3 linked regions of the Homo sapiens genome follow. The protein of the gene in region 3 interacts with the protein of the main gene of each other region in a pairwise test. Each region holds a gene or a part of one and is shown on either strand. Other genes may lie near its edges.

Region 1 (6,837 bases), about 30 Mb from region 3:
CCATGAATGACGTCCGAGTAGGGTTGGAACTCGAAGCCCGAACGCACTGGAAATGCAGCCGGACGACGGCTGGGATCCGAGTGGGTCCGGGCCAGAAATGGGGACCTCAGAGCTCCACCGAGGCGCTCGAGGTCAGAACTGAAGCCTGAGACTTAGGCAGGACCCGAGACAGAGCCAGAGACGATACCGAAACCCAATGGACCGCGAGGACCGAAGGCAGATCCGGGGCGCAAACCTGTGCAGGCACTGGCGCGCTGCCTGGAGCTCTGGGTTCGCGCCGCTGAGCGCCGGCAGGTTGGACCAGCGCTGCGCGCCGGAAGTGCACTCGGGACGCCGGGGTTCTGGAGGAGAGACCACACGCCGCAAAAGTGGCCTCCGAATGCGCCCGGGGCCTGCCCTCGGCGACACTGCTGGCTCGGCGGCCGCAGCCTACCTGAAGTAGTCCATCTTGCAGAAGATCTCCTTGTTCTTGATGTAGCAGCTGTTCTGCTGCCTCAGCGACGTGCGACACACGGAGCACTCGAGGCACCGCACGTGCCAGATGAGGTTGTTGACCTGGGGACGGGGCGGGGACGGAGGTCGGCTCAGCGCGGGCCTCTTTCACTCCGGGCCCCAGCCTTCCCGGTCTCATTTACAGTCAGAGGCGCTGAAGCTCAGAAGGTGCATGCGATTCCCCTATTTTTCTCCCGTAATACTGAGACTCAGGGAAATGGAAATAAACTCTTCTTATTTTTCAGACGGAACCCGGGGGCTCAGGCAGACCCTAAGTCTTGCCCAAAGCTTCGCAGTCGGGCAGCAGTGGAGCCAGGATTTGGAAGTAAGAGGACCTGCGGTGCTTCCCTGCAGTCTCCTGCGCTGCGTCCCACGCCCCGACAACACGCACGCAACACCTACCCCTGTCTCACCTTGAGCAGATATCGGTCCAGGATCTCGAGGCCGCAGCTGGAGCAGATGTTCTTGCCTGCAGACGGCACGGAGGAGGCGGCAGAGGGCGGTGAGCAGACAGATGGCGTGCTGGGCGTACATGGGGAGGCCTGACCCTCGTCCTTGTCCAGAGCTCCTGCCAGGGCCTCGGCGTCAGACTGAGCCTGCGGCGGGGGAGAGAAGGAGAGGAGCGCTGATCCGGGCACCCAGAGTTGGGGCTGCCTTGGAGACAAATCTGGGGCCCCCGAGCACCAATTGACAACGAAATCTCCCCAGGACAATGCGCCGTAGACTGAAGGACAGGGATGGAAGGGCCTATTGGAGAGGAAGGGACGGCCCCAACTTTTAACACGCGCATTCTGGGTGCTGGGAGCGGTTAAAGCCAACATTCCCTGCCGGAAAACCGAGGCTCAGAGAGGGGCGGCGCCCGCCGGGAGTCCCCCAGAGCGTGAGCAGCAGTTCGTGGCCGGAAAACCTGGCCAGGTCCCCAGGGCCGGGCCGCTGGAGGACTGGGCACCGCAGGCAGGGCCAAACGGACTCACCATGGCGGGCGGCGCGGTCCCTTCAAGACAGCGGGTGGTCGCTTTGCAGCCGGACCCTGGCTGGGCCATCACCTGGGGGAGGGGGGGAGGGAACGCAGGCGGCGGCGGCTGCTGAACTGGCTCCGCACAGCCTGAGCCCAGCGCCTCCCCGCGCCTGTTATATAAACCGGCGCCGAACAATGAGTCCTAACTTTGTAGTGGGCATTTAAAGCCCTTCCCCACAAAAGCGGTGTCTCTCTAATGAAGCAATTTGAATTTGGATTGGATTTTTTCCCTCTCTCTCCCCCTCTCCCTGCACTTAACCCGTGGCTCTTGAAGTAATCGCTTAGTTCCCTTGCAATCCAAGCCTCTGAGGGGGGAAGAAAAACACGCGCACACACACACAAACTACCTGCAATTAGAAATTGTCGTGAATGCCCAAGATAAGAGGTAGCCAGAGTGTCAATTCCAACTGTCAATCAGTGAGATCCATCAGGCCGCCCAAAGAATTGCAAATTTGATTTTTTAATGGTAGTAATTAAAAATCGAATTTTTTCTCTCTCCACCCGCCCCCCCACCCCACTCCCCTTCCTCGCTCCCTTCTCCTCTCGGCACAAAATGCAAAAAGGAGAAAAGAGAGAAAGAAAGAAAATAAAAAAGAGATGGGTGAGGGGCGGAGGGTGGTTGAAGAAAAGAAAACCCCGAGCGCGGTGAGCACCCGCCCGCCCGCCCGCCTGACACGCGCGGCGAAATTGAAGCAGCTATATTGACACGGATTCAGGCGCCTTTCGAGGGCCAGTCGGAGGGAAACCCGGAGCAAAAAGAGAGCGAGATCGGGGCGAAACGGGACCAAAAAGAGAAAAGAGAGGCGCTCAAGGGGAGGAAAAAGCACCCTCCAGCCCCTCGGCGCGCCGGGTACCGGCCCCGCGTCGGGATTCTCAGCGCTGCGCCGGCACAACCCCCGGCGCATCGGCGCTATCAGCGCCTATTCAGACGGACAATACCGGCCTCGCCTCCTCTTGATTCGCCTGTGTCTTTACTAAATCGCTTTTTGAGAAATTCCTCCAACATTTGCATAATGTGTTCCCGCTTTCCGCGACCCCCCCCCCCCGCTCGCGCGCGCGCTCCCACACTCACAAGCACACACTCACAGGCGCACCCTCGTACCCCTCCTTCCTGCAACCGCCCGCCACCCTGCTCGGCCCGGCTGGGTCCCGGACCCTGCCCGACCCCGGCCCGGGCCGCTCACCCAGTCGTTCGCCGGCTCACCTGGTCGGTGGCGGGGCCGCCCTCGGCCGGCAGCCGGCAGCCCTCGGGCAACGCCGGGGCGGCGTTCTCATGCTTCCAGTACATGGGCCGGGGAACCTCGGGCTCAGCGGGCGCGCAGCGCGGAGAGCTGCGCCGAGGGGGACCACAGCCGCAGTGGGAGCAGAGGCTGCTGCAGGAGCAGGAGGAGAGCCGAGGCGCCGGCCCCGCCGCCCCGGGCCCGGCCTCAGCCCCCGCCCCCGGCCCGCGCGCAGCCCCGGCCTCCCTGGCTGCTGCCGCCGCTGCCTCGGAAGAAGGTCCCGACAAACTTGGAGAGGCCCCCGCCCCCTCCTTCTTCTCCTCCTCCCCCTCTTGGTAGTCCTCCTCCTCCTCTCCCTCCTCCTTGTCCTCCTCCCCCTCCAGCTGCAACGGCGGCCGCCCTGCCGCTGGAGCCCCGCTCGGTTCAAGATGAGTCATGCGTGACCAATCCCCTCCCCGCCAAGGGAGAGCAAGACACACACGACGAGGCAGAGACCCAGAGAGAGAGACACACACACAGACACAGAGACACACAGAAACTCAGAGCTGCCGACAGAGAGACTCGGAGACACGCCAGTACACAAAGGCACCGGCGGGCACACATCCACCCAGCTCTCACTACCGCTCCTCCCTCAAGGGGCACCCATCTTCCTCAGACACTGCCCCACTCACAGGTACAGGAGGGACCCATGGCCATACCATCTGCGGAGATAGATTCCGTAGGAGGTCACACGTTATTACACTGTGTTGATGCAATCCCATGCCTGGTACATTTGTGTACACACTAATGTAAGTGATTACCTGTTCACATCATTTACACGGGCACGAGGCACCACACTTACTCTCACACACCTGCACAGATACCTCTGCTCTATAAGAACCAGACAGTGCACCAGCTCCCAGGGACTGAGGTGAAACGGGAGGGTAGTTTCCCTGAATTCTCTTGGAAGGGATTGCTTGGCACATTCCCCTTCCCTTCAGGATTTGCTTAACCACACAGTCCAATGCCCATCCCTTCTTCTCTAGGGTTCTACTGACAATGAGAATGGTAGGGAAGGCAGGAAGGCCCAGGCATTTAGACAGAAGACACTGCCCCCAGACACACAGACACAGAACCTTCAAACCCAAAGATGGAGCCTTACACACACTAACGCCCTGCAGCATACACAAGTGGACACTTAGAGTCTCAGCCCCCTTCTCCACACACAAACTGAGCCTAAAGAGACACATGTAAACATACATCATCTAAAAACAAATAAGCACACTCAGACATAGATCCAGCCCTACAGACACCATGACAGCCTACCCTCACCACATCACACATGTCATCACCTCCATAATTGCCCTCATTTACAGATGTAAACACCCCCCCACACACAATTGTTCTTCCATTTGTACACACAGCCATACTCAAGAGGGCACAGATTTTCACAGAGCTCCAAACCCATGTATAACCTTATGTCCTCTACTCAGGCACCCTCAAATATGTACTTACATCCTTACAGATGGTGAGACAACTATTGATAGGCATTTATAGGCAGACACATCACACACACTTCTGCAGCCATAGATTCCCAATAGTTATAGTCTCAGTTTGCACACACACAGGCAGGTTCTGACAGGCGCAGGTAGTAGAGGATGCCTGCACACCAACACGATACTAAAGATCCACACCCATATTCCCCAAAGATACAAATATCTGTTCCTTTACTGGCATCAAGGTACACAAAAATAGCCCCAGCCTCAGCTAATGGCATTTCCCGCCCTCTGCATCCCAGTCATTCATTGCTCTCAGACACAGAAATTCAGAGTGAAAAGAGTTTCTCTTTGAACCCTAATCTTTTATACGAAGAGAACAAGTTGCAATGTGAAAGCGGGTGAGGTGTATGCATAGGTACACATGTGTACACACATACACATGCATTCTCAAACATGAATACAGAAGAACAACCCCTCCCTCTCAAATATCTCCTTTGCACATAATAATTTCAGCTACTACTGGGATTATTCCCAGTTATTACAGCTACTAATCTGTGCCAGGCATGATACGAGGCATTTTACAATCGTGATCTCATTTTCTTTTCACAATAATCCCGTGAGGTAGCATCTCTCAGCGTGCTTGTTTTACTGATCAAGAGACTGAGGTTCAGAGAGTTCATGTGATATATCCAAAATGGTGCACATGGCTAATTGCCAGAACCAAGGACTTAAAACCACATTCATCTCACATTAGAGCTCATACTCTTGATTTCTAGGCTGCAGACATGACCATGTTTACTTTCTGCACACACACATGTGCACACACACACACACACACACATACACACACACTCCACATTATCTGTTAAAAGACCTGGATGTGACTCCCAGCCTCACCACTTATAGGCTCAGCCTGTTTTCTCATCGGCAAAATGGGAATAACAATAGGACCTGCTTTACCTCCTTCTCTTCCTCCCCTTTGGGTGGCTGGGGGAATTGAAAGGTTAATAAACGTTATAGAATGCTGCACATATGCCAGATTTGTGAGTGCAGAAGGGCCCCAGGAAAGAAGACCATGAAGATCGTACTGGCTTTGCAAAACTTCTTAGACATGAGCCATGGAAGAGGCTTGAGCTAAAACTAAAGGGCAGGTGAAATTTGGATGGGTTCAGGGAGAAGAAGAAAGTATTTCAGGTAGAGAGAGGACCACAAAGGTTCAGAGGCTGGACAAACAAGCTGCTGCACTCTAATGAGGGGGAATGTGAAGCATGTGCTCCTAGAGTGATAACAATAATAACTATTTATTGAGCATTTATGTGCTAAGCCCTTTGTTGTTTACACGCATTATCCTCTTTAATCCTTGCAACTACCCTACAAAAAGGTTATATTATTATCTTTCTTTTATAGTTGAGGAAACAAGCTTACAGGAGTCCCATCTGAAGCTCTGGCACTCAGATTTTAGAACCCAAACTCTTACCTACTATGCAATTCTGCTCCTGAATTCTGATTAAGTGCTCAGATAATAAAAACTGGAGTAAGAGGCAGTAAAGTCAGTAGTGAAGCACAAAGACTCTAGGGCCAGATGGCCTTGATGCCAACCTTGGCATCTGTTTTCTATTCCCTTTATTACTTTATTACTTGGGTAACCCTGGACAAGTTCTTCAGCCACTCATCAGCCTCAGTTTCCTCATCTGTAAAGTGGGGATAACCGAGTTCAACTCCTATGGTTGTGAAAATTACGCAAATGATCCATGTAATAGGGCTCAGAAATATGCCAGGCACACAGTAAGCAAATGATAAACAGCCATCATTATGGCAATGGACCGGCTGAATCTTGTGGTTGTGATTCTACTAGGTACTACATCAAATTCTTTATGAAGGCAGGGGATGAATCAACCAAAAAAAATCAAATCTTCTCCTGAATAACTTACCTAAGGAAGATGCAGAACCATTATTCGAGCCCAGAACTTGCCTAACTTCAAAGAGGACAGAAGTGAAATTACTTTGGAAAAGAAATCTCTCTTCCAATGACTCCTGACTCCATCTTTTTCCATCAGGAAAAAGAGTCCAGATAGGAGTGACCTTGGCAAAATTAGGATTAGCAAACATAGTACCTTCCATTAGGATACTTGATTTCTTCCTATGACAAACTGTGGGTCACTTTGAGTCACTTAGCTTCTCTGAGCCTCAGTTCCTCACCTGCAAAACGGGGAATAATGATACTGACCTCTCAGAATTGAAGTGACAACTAACTATACATTAAAAACTAATATTTTGGCTGGGTGCAGTGGCTTATGCCTGTAATCCCAGCACTTTGGGAGGCCAAGGTGGGTGGATCACAAGGTCAGGAGATCAAGCCCATCCTGGCCAACATAGTGAAACTCAGTCTCTCCTAAAAATACAAAAATTAGCCGGGTGTGGTGGCAGGTGGCTATAGTCCCAGCTAGTCGGGAGGCTGAGGGCTGAGGCAGGAGAATTGCTTGAACCTGGGAGGCAGAGGCTGCAGTGAGCCGAGATTGCACCACTGCACTCCAGCCTGGCAACAGAGTGACACTCGATCTCAAAAAAAAAAAAAAAAAAAAAAAAAAAGAACTAATATTTTTTAAAGTGTTGTAGATTTATTCATTTA
Region 2 (7,022 bases), on a different chromosome or scaffold from region 3:
GGCCATCCCACTTATGGGCACCCCCCATGACCCTCCAAGTGTTAGAGTCCTTCTCCTGAATGCTCTGCGAGTCATACCTCTCACCTGCACGGCGACTGCCCTCACAAACCTCAGATCAGGCCTGCAACAGGGGCGGGACCTGGATTCTTACTTTTCTTTCACACTTGAGGAAAGCAGATAGAAGAGGATGCTCTCTGCATGGATTCATGAGAGGGAGGCCAAAATCTCCCCCTACCATCCCTGTCTCCCCTGTCATATATCCCTCCTACTGTCACTGTGTCTTGACAGCAAACTGTTAGAATCATTTAGGGCAGGGCTTTTCTCAACCTCCTGGGGATCTTGTTAGAACGCAGCTTCTGGCACAGGAAGTCTAGAGTGGGGCCTGGGATTTTGCATGTCTAATCAGATCTCAGGGGGACTCCAATGTGGCCAGTCCAGGGACAAGAGTTTGAGTAGCAAGGCTTTAGGGTGTTTTTGCACAGAATGATAGAGCTGGAAATGGTCTCAGAGGCCTTCCAGCCTCCTGAAATCCGGGCTGAGGTGTACACCCCACCACAGCATAATCACTTCCTCTCCTTTGACTTAAGCCAGTGGTCCCCATCCCAGTGTCCTGAAACCAGACAGAATCCGGGAAAGCCTCATGATTCCCAGCTTTTCAAAAATCCAGATGGAAATTCTACATTTCCCAGTCATAAACCTGTAACTATAGGTTTCTTTGCTCGGGAATACAATTACTTCCACTCAGCACACAGCAGGTCTTATCTCTGCTGATCAGGAGTGTGGACTTACAGCTCTAGCCAGCTTTGATGACTTAATTTACAAAATGGCAAAACAAATAAATCAATTCTTAATGAATACTGTTTGTTTGATATACAGAACCTTTCAAAGCAGAAGGTGGGAATGATGAAAGGGGATAAATAATGAAAGGAATCCTTGGTAATGAAATGGGTGGGAGCCGTGAGTCCTCCACCCACCACCCTCACCCCAGGCCTCTGACATGGAAATGAGTTGCCTGGGAGAGGTGTTGGATTAACTCCTTCTTATCTATCATCATCCAGGCTCCAAAATTGGTTTGCTGGGTAGGCAGGTGGACCTGGGAGGGAAGGGCTTCTGCAGGCCTTTCATAGAAGGTGCTTGGAGGCAGGGGCAGGTGCATCAGGATGACACTGGACCCTGGAGGGAAATGGAAGAGACAAGGTGGACCAAAGCAAGCACCACCATCGAAGGTGGGCTCTGGGACTGCTCAAGGCCCAGCTCTACTTCCCACGGTTTCCCTGGACTGGAGCTGGATACAGCTGTAACCACAGGTCTTTTTGCCCTTGAATACTTGCAAAATTCCCAGTCCTTTAGTCGAACAGGAATCATTAACATAAATCTATTTCCCTTCCTTCCTTCATTCCCGGGGGAAGAGGCTCTTCCTTTCCCATCAAGCCCTTGGTTAATGTTAGCAGATTTTGATATGATGATAACTAACATATATTAGTGGTTTCTGTATGCCAGACACTGTGCTAAGCCCTCCACACTCATTATTTCATTTGATCCTGACAACGACCCTTTTCTTGGTATTCCCATTTTACAGATGAGGACACTGAGGCTCAGAGAGTTTTAAGTCACTAAACCCAGAGTCACATAGCTAGTAAGTGAAGGGACAGGGATTTGAACAAGGCAATCTGACAGTAGAGACAGAACTTTAAAAAATTACCCCACACGTGGGTCTGACACCATCAAAAATATCACCTGTTGTTCAGCCTAGAAATCTTCTGTTAAACCCCATTATTAAGTGAACAATCACTCCCTAAGTTATCTGAATAGAAATGAAAGGCTAGTTCCAACACAAGACCCCATGTAGATCTCGCCTGGTGCCACATTCACTAAAAACTTCAACTCAGAACCAAGACTCACTGCTTGCAGGGAAGCTGGGGAGATTTAGAACAGGGAATCAGAGAAGACCTCCCCAGTCCTGAGGAGCAGAAAGTATGACGAGAGAGGCTGCGAGACATCTTTGTGGAAGTTATCTCAGGAAATGAGAATCAGAGCAGGCCTCCATGGAGACCAAGGCGAGCTCTGATGACCTGATTATCTTGAGAATCAATAGCAAGGAAGATCAGGATCGAGAAGTCAGCTCTGGTTATAAAAGGGTGCACTCAGCATGGGCGGGTGCAGTCCTGCCTTTGTGTGACATACCGTGACATTGGTGATGAGTGGCGGAGAGGCATAGGTCAACACTGAGGAGGGCCCCACCACCGTGTAGCTGGGGCACACGGGCTGCACATACATGTCAGCTGAGTAGGGGCAGCTGACAGCTTCATGGGGCACATACTCGGTGTAAGGTGTCCATGGGGCCAGGGGCTGCAGGGTGGCCGGGGTGGGCTGGGAGAGCCAGCCGGCACACAGGGCAGCCTCCTCTGTCACTGCAGACACAGAACCTTCCATGTCCAGGCAGGAAGGACCTGTGGGAAGAAGGAAATTACAGAACTTCAGATGCCACCCAGATGAGAGGCCTGGGGGCCACCAGGGCTACGGGGCACTCTTACCCACTGTGGTGTAGGTCGCCAGGGGCTGATGGGGCAGCACCACCTAGAGGGGAGAGGAGAAGACCAGGGTCAATGTTTAGCCCTCGTCAACCGGCCCTGTGCAGAGAACTTGCCCAGAGGGCCTCAGGGCAGGAGAATAGAAGATAGGAATCTCTCTGGTTAGAACAAAACATCCCACCCCGTATCCCAACCATCACCACCTACACTTGAGAGATTTGCGTTTCTATTTAGCAGGAAGTCTGTGCGCTCAGGGAGCTGGTGTCTTCTTCTTCTCAGGGGGGGCCCCCAACTCACACCAGGGTATGCAAGTCATTCGCTCACTCAGGCCTTGACAGTAGCTGTGTTCGGTGGGCCAGCTGAGCCGGCCCTGATCCCTCATCCCAGTTGCTCCACCCTAGCTCTATCCCTGGCAGCCTCCACCAAGGGACCTGCGCTCCTTCCTGCCTGATCCTTTTGGTCACCTCCCAAGCCATCTGCCTGCGCGCACACACATTCTCACACAAACACACACACTCTCTCACACACGTACTCTCTCACACACTCTCACACTCTCACACTCACACTCTCACACACTCACACACTCTCTCACACACACTCCCTCACACACATACTCTCTCACACACACGCTCACACTCTCACACTCACTCTCACACACACACACTCTCTCACACACATACATTCTCACACACTGACACATACACATTCTCTCTCACACTATCACACACTCACACACGCCATCACACACAAACACATACACACTCACATGCATACACTCACACACTCACACTCCCTCACACACACATACACTCTCACACACTGACGCAGATACACATTCTCTCTCACACTATCACACTCTCACACACTCTATCACACACAAACACATACACACACGCATACACATACTCACACACACATACACTCTCACACTATCCCTGACACACACATTCTCTTTCACACACACACACTCACACTCTCACACACACAAACTCTCACCGCCGTAGGTGCAGGTGCTGCCCCACTGCTGGCGTGGCCTCGCTTCCTCCTCAGCAGTTCCTTCACTGGCTCCTTCACACGGACGCCCTGGTATGGCCGGGCCGGGGCTGGGGCTTGCTCCGGAGCTGTGGCTGTGAAAAGCAATGTCCCTGGAGCCCATGGTCCTTCTCAGACGAGCCCCCACCCCAAAGTGCTCATTTCCTCATGGATCTGCCTGCTCCCCTAAGTCGTGCTTGAACACGGAGAACCACGTGACACTTCCTAGAATGCCTCTCCAGTATTGTCACTCCTCCTACTCCCAAACCTTCTGTGGGTCCCCTGCACCCAGACAACGAAGGCCCAGCTCCTTGTCCTAGAATTGGACAGTCTTCAGAATGAGATCCGAACCCATTTTTCTCACCACTTTGCACACTCCCTACTACACAAACCCTGTCTCCAACCAGAAGGTCTGTCTGTGTTCTCTACGTGTTCCTGCGTGTCTCACCTCCTCATCTGTGGTTGAGGTTTTCCGTGGTCAGAATTCCCTCTCACTTCTTCCAACCTCTTGATTCTTGCTGACACAAGACAAATGCAACCCTCCTGCCTGACCCCTGCAGCCTGAGTAATTTCCACATTCTACAGCTTCTCAAACATTTCCAGATCTGATTAGTATTCATCATAGGTGGCAGTAGAGGACAGCCATAAGAGCAGGGACTCTGAGCCAGATAGCACAGGCCTCAAATCCTGCCCCTGCCACCACCTTCCTGTGTGATCCTGGGCAAGTTACTAAACCTCTCTGTGCCTCTTAATCTTCAGTTTCTTTATCAAAGGAATATTGAGAGAAGTCACTTGATGTGGGAAATTGGTAGAACAGTATATGCCTCAAATAAATTCAGGTACAGGGTAGGCATTCAAAAAAATTCAGTCTATTATGTAATAGTTATTCTTTTTGATGGAAGTGTCTTATACCCACAACTAGATTATAAACGTCTCAAGGTGAGTTATTGTACCTTATTTCTCTATGTCTTCCCAGTGGCATGCCCATGCGTTTTAAGCTCAGTTGATACTTATTGATTAATCGATTGGGTGATTCTTTAAGACATGCTGCCATTTGTCTTCCCTTCACCTCTCCTACACCTTTAGGATTGAGGCAAGTGGCTCCCAGGTTCTCAGTGACTTTCAGGGCATGGGACAATTACCCAAGGGTGATCCTTGTACCCTGGGGCCAGACAGTGTCCACCTGCTGCTGAGGGAAGGTTTCCTTCCCCTCTTGCCATCAAAGCCAGGAAACCAAAGCATTGACCCAAATAAGAGCCAGTGCATAGGGCCCTTCCTGGCCTGGGAGAGCAACTGAAAAGCAGCCGTGGCTGGGAAGCAACAAGCTGCCCACCTAGACAGCCTGTGGCCTAGGGATCCTGGGCTCTCAGAGAGCAGGCCTGGGTCAGCCAAGAAACACTAGACCTTAGGACTTCCACAGGGAGCCCATTATTATCCACCGATAAGGGCCCCAGGGACCTGGGCTCTGAATCAAAGTCCCGGAAGCCTAGGTATCTGTTAAACCCGGATCTGCAGCACTGCCCTGGTTGAACTTTGCTCAGTAAATACCCAGCTGATAAGGTCCCATGCCTGACTCGGCACCAGACCTCCCTCCAGGCTCCAGCCACGAGCAAGGCCTGGCCTTGAAGCCCAGAAGGCAGAGAGAAGCTTGGGCAGAGGCAACAGGAAGTGGGAAATGAGTCCCAGGGGCAGATGTTGGGGGTCAGGAATCCCAGTATCTCAGGTGGACTTTAGACCCATCCTCCAAGGTCCCTCAGCTGGCCAGGTAGCAAATCAACCAGGAAATGATGCAATATACAGGTACAGGTCCTGCTCCAGGAAAGTCTGATTCTAGGGGGCTGATATAGGCCTAGGAATCTGTATGTATAAAAATCTCTCTTGGGAGGCTGAGGTGAGTGGATCACAAGGTCAGGAGATTAAGACCATCCTGACCAACATGGTGAAAGCCCATATTTACTGAAATACAAAAAATTAGCCAGATGTGGTGGCAGGCACCTGTAATCCCAGTTACTTGGGAGGCTGACTCAGGGGAATGGCTTGAACCTGGGAGGTGGAGGTTGCAGTGAGCTGAGATCACACCATTGCACTCCAGCCTGGCAACAGAGAGAGACTCTGTCTCAAAAAAAAAAAAAAAAAATCTGTCCAGTATTTCTGAAAATATACTGGGATTACAACTGCTGATAATCCATTCCTAATTTAACATAAGAATCTCCCGATAACATCCCAATAGGAGATTCATTATCCTTATTTTAACTTCCCCTGTCTGAACAAGAGATCTCTACTGGTATTCATTCATTTTTTCAAATATTTCTAGTGCCTAGGAGTACAGCACTGCACAGGACCCATGGAGCCCCCGCCCACGTGGATCTTGCAGTCTAACGGGGAAGACAAGCAACAAAAGTTACCAGCAGATGAATGTGTCACAACTTGTGAAATTCAGGCTGCTATAGGAGTGTCTAGCAGGGGAACCAGCCTGGTTCTGTGCCCCGGGGCCACCTGTGCGCCTCCACCTTTGCTCTGAACACCAATGACAGTAGACTTGAGAACCACACATACCTGTATTCAAATCTGGGCTGTCACTTACTGGTGGAAAGTTCTTAGATTTATTTAATGTCTCTGGGCTTCAATTTCCTCATTTGTAAAACGGGAATAATAATTCTTCTCTCACACAGTGGTTGTGAGGATTAACCAAAATAATACATGGGGAGCTCCAAAGGCCATGTCTGGCATAGGGTAGATGCTCAATACATGTGGTTTTAATTATCTTCCTTCTGGCCATTTCCACCTTCCTTTCGGGGGGATATTATCATGTCAGACAGCTCTTCCTCCTACTGAGGCTAACTTATGGTAACACATGCCATATTTCCCTCCATTACCTTCTAATGAAACTCACATTTCTTAGTCCATTTACAGCTGTCTCATCTATAAAGTGAAGATCATAATGGTATGTATGTTGTAGGGTAATTTAAGATTTGCATGTGAAGTGCTTGGAATAGAGTTTGGCACAGAGCATTTAATACATGTGAGCTCCGATTATCATGAGTATTAGTAGTAATATTCCCTTCCGAAATCTGAGGACAGATACCAGGTGTCCCCCTAGGTCTGAAGGGACTTCTCATTCCTTCAGCTATTTCTAAATGACATGGTTTTAGTCTCCCCACCTTCCTTCTGGGTGAGTCACTCTTGCACAAGTTCCATTTGCCACTTTCCCTACTGCTGGGTGGTGCCCAGCGATGACCACAGGCCCCAGGTACAATCTGACGTGTCAGCGAACAGGGCACCTGCCCTGCCACACTCAACTCACTCTTTCTCAGGGTCACCCCATGGCCACGTCAGCATTTTTGGTTTTAATCTTTATGAGTACATAGTCAGTGTATATATTTATGGGGTACACAAGATATTTGGATACGGGCATGCAATGCACACTCATCACATCAGGGTAAATAAAGCACCCATCCC
Region 3 (7,428 bases):
TTGTCAGTTTTCCATGATTTGCTTTACTAATTAAAAGTTCAGCTTGGCTTTCCAGAGCCCTCTCAGTTACACTGAGTGTCACATAGGGTCCACGGCGATCAGATTTTCAGGGTGACATGCTTTATGAAGTGGACATGAGAGTTAAGCAGGATCTCACAATTATACTGAAAAATTTCAAATGTGTAGCTCTGTGCTTGGTACACAGCCGTAATAAGAAAAATATGTTGCCTTACTATATACATAAAAACTTTTCTTTTTCCACAAAGTCTTCTTATTCAAGATGTTTCCATTTATTTTCTTCTAGATGGATTTCTTCTAGACGGATCACTATCATTATTTATTACCACCATCACTCCAGGGATCTGGGCCAAAAGTAAACACTACACTGCCAAAAATGGGGGCTGGGGGGACCCTAATGCTCCATCGTTCCCCACCTACCCTACCTAGGATTGGTATATAGTCCCAAATCAGTATTTGTCATCAGAGGAAACAGAGTCTTGCTATTAAAATGTGGAATAAGAACTTACAAATCCTTTTAGAAAAACCCCTAAATAGTTTTACATAATAAATTATTTCGTGGATAAAACACACTCAAATAACAGGGACTCCTCTTTTCACAGCAGAAAAGATCCCAAACACTCAAATCTCCTGTAATCATATAATTTTATTATTATTTTGAATAAAAATTATCATACTCTTTGGATTTTGTTAACCTAGCCATACAGAACGAAGAGAATTATATCCTATGCCCTCTCCTATAAAGATTATGAGTATTTCACTAGAAAAAGAACAGGGTTCAAAAATTAAAGAAAACGACTCCAATTGCTTTGTTCATATAAGACATTTGTACATTCACTGGAAACTATGAGTGTTTAAATTCCTTCACCCAAAACTCAAGGAACTTTCCTGTTACAACCACCTTGGCTTAAGCAATGGACCCATCATGCTTTCCTCATCACCCATCTAAAAACCCCCACCACAGCACCGCCCCTCAAAGGCTGCGCTCAACCCTCATGGTCTGCAAGGCAGAGTTTTTGTAGGACAATTAACCGCAGGGTGAACAGCAAAAGCCGCCCAACAGCACGTCCAGCAACGTGTTTAAGCCGCCTCCCCGCCACCCCTCTCCCCCAGCAAAGGGATCTCCTGGGAGATTCTTGGGGGAGGGGTTGCAGAAATCGACAGAGGTCTTGAGTGATGGATACCAACTTAGAATGTGGTCTACTTATTTTATTGTGCACTCTGAGCGGTTTATGCTTTAATGCACAGTGAGATAAACGCAAGCTCCCTTCCCAAATCAAGTAATTAGGAATGTCTGACGTAATCAACATCTGCTTAAACTAAAACCCCCCCCCAGGAAAGACTGTGCAGCCTTTCTGACTCGCGTACCTTGGGCCGGCTAGGGCGGCAGGCCAGGATACCTGGAGCGCGCAGCTCCCAGCAGGACGCAGGAAAAGCAGAGCGTCTCCCAGCCTGCGACTGTCCCGATTCTCACCTTCCTGCAGGAGTGCAGGGATGGGGGATACTGAAGCCCATTTACTAGTAAGAAGTGTCTCACACATTCCGGGGGCTTCAGGCGAACCCCATAGGTCTCTGGCGCTCCTGGGCCTGAAGGCCCCGCCCGCCCTCCTCCACCCCCGCAGGGTGCCGAGAATCCGGCCCGAGGCGCGCGGGCGGGAGGTGCTCCCGGAGTCTGCACCGCCAGAGCTAACGCCGCCTCCTCCAGGCAACCTAGGCAGGTCCCAAGCTGCACTTCCGAACCTCCCCGCCGTTCCTCTGCGCCCCGGATCCAAGCAGCCGAAACCGCGCAGGGACTCGGGGGAAGTGGGGCCCCGGGAGGAAACCCACCTAGGAGCCGGGCCCCGCCCCTCCCGCCGCCAGCCTCCTACAGGTCCCGGGGGTCCCCCCGGCGCGGCCAGAAGGCGGCCGCGCCCCAGCCGCTCAGGGACCCGCGATCCCAGTCACAAACCATTTCAATCCAGATCACACACCACTTCGGCCACCCCAGAGCGGTGGGGGAGAGGAGGTTTCAGGGACCAACAAAAGGGATGCCAAAGAGCCCGTTTCCATCAAGCGGCCCGCGGGCTGGGAAAGTCAGGACCCGGGAGCCGCCGGCGCCCCCACCCCCGCCGCAAGAGCCGCTTCTCCGGGGCCACGTCCACCCCAGGATTCTGCCAGGCATCAGGCCGCCCTGGGGGTGGGGGGACGCTCCGAGACAGACGGGGGACACTCGGGGCCGTGTGCCCTTGAAGGAGGAAGACCTCGGGGAGGAAGCCCGGGTCCTGGGACCCTCGGGGCACATCTGCGGACTCGGGTCCCGGGCCCAGGGCGGGTACTCACATTCACACTCGCACTCCCACTCGCGACCCTCGGGAAGCGCCACCGAGAGGCTCCCAGCCGCCGCCGCCCGCCCCCAGACTCTGGAAACACTTAGGCGTCCCCAGAGCGCGGCTTATTGTAACCAGCCCGAGGGGGTCCGGGGTGCGGGCCGGGAGCGGCGTCGGGCGAGATGCGAATGGCCCTGCCTGGCGCCCCTCGTTCAGGAGCATGGGCGCCGGCGCAGCGGCCGGGAGCATAGTGGCGGCGGAAGGGCTGGCCAAGCGAGCCGTGAGCTACCGTCTGCGCACAAGCCGGAACGCCAGATCCTACCTGAAGTCCGGGACACTGAGAGCAGAAGCGCGGCGGCCGCCCAGACGGCCGGGATGCACAGCAGCGGCCGCCGCGGGAGCGCCGAGCCCCGGGCCATGCCGCAGGCAGTGGGGGCCGGGAAGCCCTCAGAGCTTCGGGCCGGGGCGCGGGGTCGGGCGCCACCACCCCTTTCTACGATGCGTCCGCTCCTCCTTCTCCCTGGCGCTTCGCAAACGGGTCCACTTCGAGGACCTCGTCGTCGTCCTCTTCTCCGGCCCGGATGCGCCGCTCGGCTCCGGCCACGGCAAGGGCTGGCTGGGGAGGTTCCTTGGCGCGGGCTGGGGCGTCCCGCCGGCCGCCAGGACGAGCGCGGGGGGCGGACCGCGGGCGAGCGCGCAGGAGGCAGGGTCCCCGCTCGCCCGCCCCGATGGGCAGAGCGAGGCTTGCGCCGGCGCCCCCTGCCGGGGGAACGCGCGGGCGGCGGGCGGGACCCAAGGAGCTGGGGCTGCAGCTGGGGCCCCGGACCTGCCTCCTGCGCCCGCCCTCGGGCCTGCGCCTCGGAACGCTTGAACACAAAGGTGGCGCCTTGGGGGCGTCAGCCGGAGTTCGGCGGGTCTGCCCACGCAGGAGAGGCGCCCAGAGCGGGTGCCCCCGACTTTCGGGGGCGACACACCCGGGGATCTAGGTCACAAATCAGTAACTCCAGGCTGCACTGCGCACCGGGACAAATCTGAGAGCCACCCAGCCCCAGACACCAGCGGTGAGGCAGGAAGAGGAGAAGCGAAAGTTGCAAAAGGAAATGTTCAGGAAAACAAACAGGCCGCCTTGGCACCGGCGCCCTCCCAGGTCGGTGGGGACAAGCGCGTCCCCCGAAATGCTCAAAACTGCCAGGGGTCGAGCTGCGTGGAGGGAGCCCTCGGGAGCGCGATGCTATCCGAAGCCACCGCGGCTTTTGGTTTACTGTTAAAAGCAAATTGTATAATTTTACCCATTAAAGGCAGAACACTATTTGTTCTCTGCAGAGGCCCAGAATGTGCAGAATTTGCTTCACTTATTAGAGACATTTTGAACGGAATTCAAATAGCATGTTTTCTTGCTTATTCTTGGTTTTGCTCAGCACATGCAAATGTCTTTGTTTTTCCTCTTAGAGGAAGGAATTGGATTCTCCAGCATCTCAGTTGCTTGTTCCATGAGATTGATCTTTTAACTGATTATCCAGCAGTTTGTTTGGTGTTTTTGCTGGAGTACCAAGCTCTGTTAATTGGAGGGCATTAGGGAGAGCCCTGGCCTTGGGTGCCAGACGTGAGGCCTCAGACGTGGCCAGAAATAAAAACTCTCTTGCTATGGTCTGCGGACAAAATGACTAAGCCAGCTCTAGCTTGTTACCTCTGTTAAAAGTATTTAGGCGTCCGGCTATCTCTACCCAATTTGTGTAGGGAAATATCTCACGCAGTTCTCATTCCCAGGAGCTGCTGTAAATCCAGTAGGAGAATGGGAGAAGATCCTAGCCCCTCCTCAACTGGATGGCAAAATTATTACCAAACTTCTTAGACGGGCTCAGGCTGTTCCTCTGCCCAGGCTGGTGCGGGTCTGAACGGGGGGGCTGCTCTCCCCAGTGGTTAGAGGACTGCCAGGGGTTTATCTTTGGGGTTTTCCTCCCTTTAGCTTCCCTTAGAATCCTTAAGGATGCTTTTAGAGTAATGTTTTAAGAGTAGGTGCTGAAGCACTTAGTTCCACACCCCTCTCTTCTGGATCTAGGGAAAACCCAACAGGGGCTGCAGAGAAGGGTCTTGAACCTGCCCTGGAAAACCCCTCCCTCAGCAATGCTGTGTCCTTTCCGTGGTGCTGTGCAGCTCGGAGAAGGTGGTCCCAGCACCTTTGCTTTCCACTTCACACAGCGTGAGCATGTGGCTCCAGAACCATTTCATCAGCAGCCCTGCCATTTATTTTTGTGTGACCTTCAGGAAAATGACCTCATCATGCCCCCATCTGTGTGTTATTTTCACATGACTGAGGCCCCACAAACCCAACTCAAAGGTTTAAACAGCAACATATATTTTGCTGACAGTTTCTTGGGTGGAGTCAGAAATGTGGGTTATATTGCATATGATTTCTTAAAAGCCTTTTAAAGCTTTCTTTTTTGGCATTTCTCTCTCACTCTCTCCTTCCCTTTCTGTAGGTTCTGAACTGAAGGATAAACAAAAAAAGCAAAGTTGGAAGGATGAAAATACAAGCTTTCTCAGTGGTTAAGAGAATATGGCTTACGTCCAAGGCCAAATTGGAGCAACATATTCCTTTCCATCTGTATTAGTCATCAATTGCCACATAACAAATTGCCCCACGATTTAACAGCTAAAAACAGTAAACATTCGTTATTTCACACCATTTCTCTGGGTCGAGAAGGCAGGAGAGACTTAGCTAGATGGTGCTGGCTCAGGGTCTCTCAGGAGGTTGCAGTCAGATGTCAGCCAGTGCTGCCATTATCTGAAGGCTCGCTGGGGCTAGAGGAGTCTCACAAGGTGGATTACTCACATGCTCAGCAAGTTAGTGCTAGGTGTGGATGGGAAGACTCAGTTTGTAGCCACGTGGGCTTCTTGGGCATCCTCACAAGATGGCTTCTAGCTTCTCCCAAAGTGAGCAATCCAAAAGAGAGCCAGATAGAAGCCACAGTGTCTTTTATAGCCTAGCCTTGGAAGTCACATGCCATAATTTCTGCAGTATCTATTGGCTCCATGGGTGGGCCCTTTGTCATAGAAGGAAACTAAACAGGTTTATATATACCAAGAGATAGGAATCACTGGAGGCTGACACCACACCAGCTGTATGGGGACAGCCATTTTCATCCTTGTGATGAACAGCAAGCAAGAGGGAGAGAAAATGAGCAGGGTCTATACTAGCAAGACCGGCGGGAACAAGCCCTTGCAGGCCTTAAGAAAGGAGGGAGCCATGCACATATCTGGGAAGAGTATTTGAGCTGGAGTGAAGAGCCAGTGTGAAGATTTCAAGGCCAGGGGTATCCTGGGATATCTGAGACCTGGGTGGTTAAATTATGTGGTTTAATTCACATTTTCCTGATGAGGAGTCATATTCTATATTTTTTCTTATGCTTATTGGCCGTTAGCCTACCTTCTTTTGTCAGATGTCTAGTCAAATTTTTGCTGATTTATTTTTATTTTTATTCTTTGTCTCCCTCAAATCATGGAATTTCTTTTCTTCTCTGATTTTTTCATAAGGTTGGATGCCTTCTTCTTTTCAAGTGTTGCCCAGGCATGGTGGCTTTTGCCTCTAATCCCTATACTTTGGGAGGCCGAGGTGGGAGGATCACTTGAGCCTAAGGGTTCGAGACCAGCCTGGGCAACATAGTGAGAGCTTGTCTCTACAAACAATAATTTAAAATTAGCCAGGAATGGTGGTGAGCGTCTGTAGTCCCAGCTACTCGGGAGGCTGAGATGGGAGGATCACCTGGGCCCAAGGAGTACGAGGCTGCAGTGAGCTATGATTGCACAACTGCACTCCAGCCTGGGCTGCAGAGTGAGATCCTGTCTCCAAAACAAAACAAAAAAAAGTTTTTAGAGCTCTTTTTTGTATGTTCTGAGTGAAAACTCAAAGAGACAGATATATTTTCTTCCAGTTTCTGGCTAGTTTTCATTTTTTTAATGATGTCTTTTCATAAGTTGCGGTTTTTCATTCTGCTGAAGTCCAGTTTATCCATTCTTTCATTTGTAGGTAGTGCTTTTTGAGTTTCAATAAATACCAAATCAGACCCCTCCCCCGCTACAAAAAAAAAAAAAAAAACGATATGGAGTATCTGGGCATACCAAACTTCACTGCGTGGACGTGGAAAGTAGGTGACTACAGTCCAAGGCCTTGGGCCCACCGCGCTTTTGTGAGGAATACATGCAGACCAGTGTGGTAGAGTTTTTCACTTGCTTATTACTTTTTCAGTTAGGAAATCCTCAGCTGAATTGTACCCTTCTGCTCCACTAGCAGGGAGCTCTACAAATATCCCACTGCAAACAAGATAAATCGCCAGACGTGTCAAACACAATGGCTTCATTTCCTCACTCCACACTCCTTGCCAGTCTGCCACCCTGAATCCACACAAGCAGCTGGGTGTGGTCATCCATGTACTGAACCAACATACATTTTTGTTCTTCTCTCACGCAGTCTCTCTGCAGCATTTTACCCTAGACCATTCCCTCTTCAAAACATGTTTTCCCTCGGCTTGTATGATATCAAGAGCTCCTGGTTTTGCTTCTACTTATTTAGCCATTTCTCCTTGTTCTTCTTTGCACCTTAACCTCTTCCACTTGGTGATTATGCTGGTCTTGGTCCTCTGCCATCCTCTCATCTTGCTCCACACTCTCCCGGTGGGAAATCTCTTCCAAGCTCATGGCTTCCAATGTCACCTATGTGCCCAGCACCTCCTAAATCTGTAACTCCAGCCTGGCATGCTCCCCTGACCTCCAAACTTACATTTGCAGCTGCCTGCCTGGCGTTTCCACATGACTGTCCCAATGGCACCTCAAACTCAAGTTATTTAAATCATGGACTCAAGCTCTACATCGCCCTACCCCAAACCCTGCCCCAAACCTCATCTTTTTCCCACGTTCCCTCCTGCACTTGATGGCACCATCATCCGTGTAGTTCCACAAGATCAGAAGCCCAACCCCCTCCTTGCCCTCTCTCCTATGTGCACTTAGCATCACGGCCTTTGGTCTCCACCCAATGCCCTCTGCCTCCCGTCCTCTCTCTCTATCACCATCACCCTAGCCGGAGATGCTTGTCTCGTTTGCCTGGAGA

What was found. The genes of interacting proteins can lie anywhere in the genome.
Region 1: the proteins of ROR2 (region 3) and LHX6 interact in binary tests that used the Homo sapiens proteins (3 or more experiments, as listed by UniProt).
Region 2: the proteins of ROR2 (region 3) and POU2AF1 interact in binary tests that used the Homo sapiens proteins (3 or more experiments, as listed by UniProt).

The regions. Positions count from the first base shown.
Region 1 is NC_000009.12:122,225,943-122,232,779, forward strand, and holds the start of LHX6 (LIM/homeobox protein Lhx6), read right to left. Parts: upstream 3,016-6,837; 5' UTR 2,799-3,015; coding exon 2,715-2,798; intron 2,492-2,714; exon of another isoform or gene 2,416-2,491; coding exon of another isoform or gene 2,365-2,415; exon of another isoform or gene 1,858-2,364; intron 1,600-1,857; exon of another isoform or gene 1,539-1,599; coding exon 1,467-1,538; intron 1,089-1,466; coding exon 906-1,088; intron 556-905; coding exon 434-555; intron 1-433. UniProt on the Homo sapiens protein: Probable transcription factor required for the expression of a subset of genes involved in interneurons migration and development.
Region 2 is NC_000011.10:111,355,261-111,362,282, forward strand, and holds part of POU2AF1 (POU domain class 2-associating factor 1), read right to left. Parts: intron 4,131-7,022; exon of another isoform or gene 4,012-4,130; intron 3,659-4,011; coding exon 3,528-3,658; intron 2,578-3,527; coding exon 2,535-2,577; intron 2,451-2,534; coding exon 2,185-2,450; intron 1,174-2,184; coding exon of another isoform or gene 1,156-1,173; exon of another isoform or gene 1-1,155. UniProt on the Homo sapiens protein: Transcriptional coactivator that specifically associates with either POU2F1/OCT1 or POU2F2/OCT2. It boosts the POU2F1/OCT1 mediated promoter activity and to a lesser extent, that of POU2F2/OCT2. It recognizes the POU domains of POU2F1/OCT1 and POU2F2/OCT2.
Region 3 is NC_000009.12:91,947,221-91,954,648, forward strand, and holds the start of ROR2 (tyrosine-protein kinase transmembrane receptor ROR2 isoform 1 precursor), read right to left. Parts: upstream 3,009-7,428; 5' UTR 2,744-3,008; coding exon 2,647-2,743; intron 1,509-2,646; exon of another isoform or gene 1,387-1,508; intron 1-1,386. UniProt on the Homo sapiens protein: Tyrosine-protein kinase receptor which may be involved in the early formation of the chondrocytes. It seems to be required for cartilage and growth plate development. Phosphorylates YWHAB, leading to induction of osteogenesis and bone formation.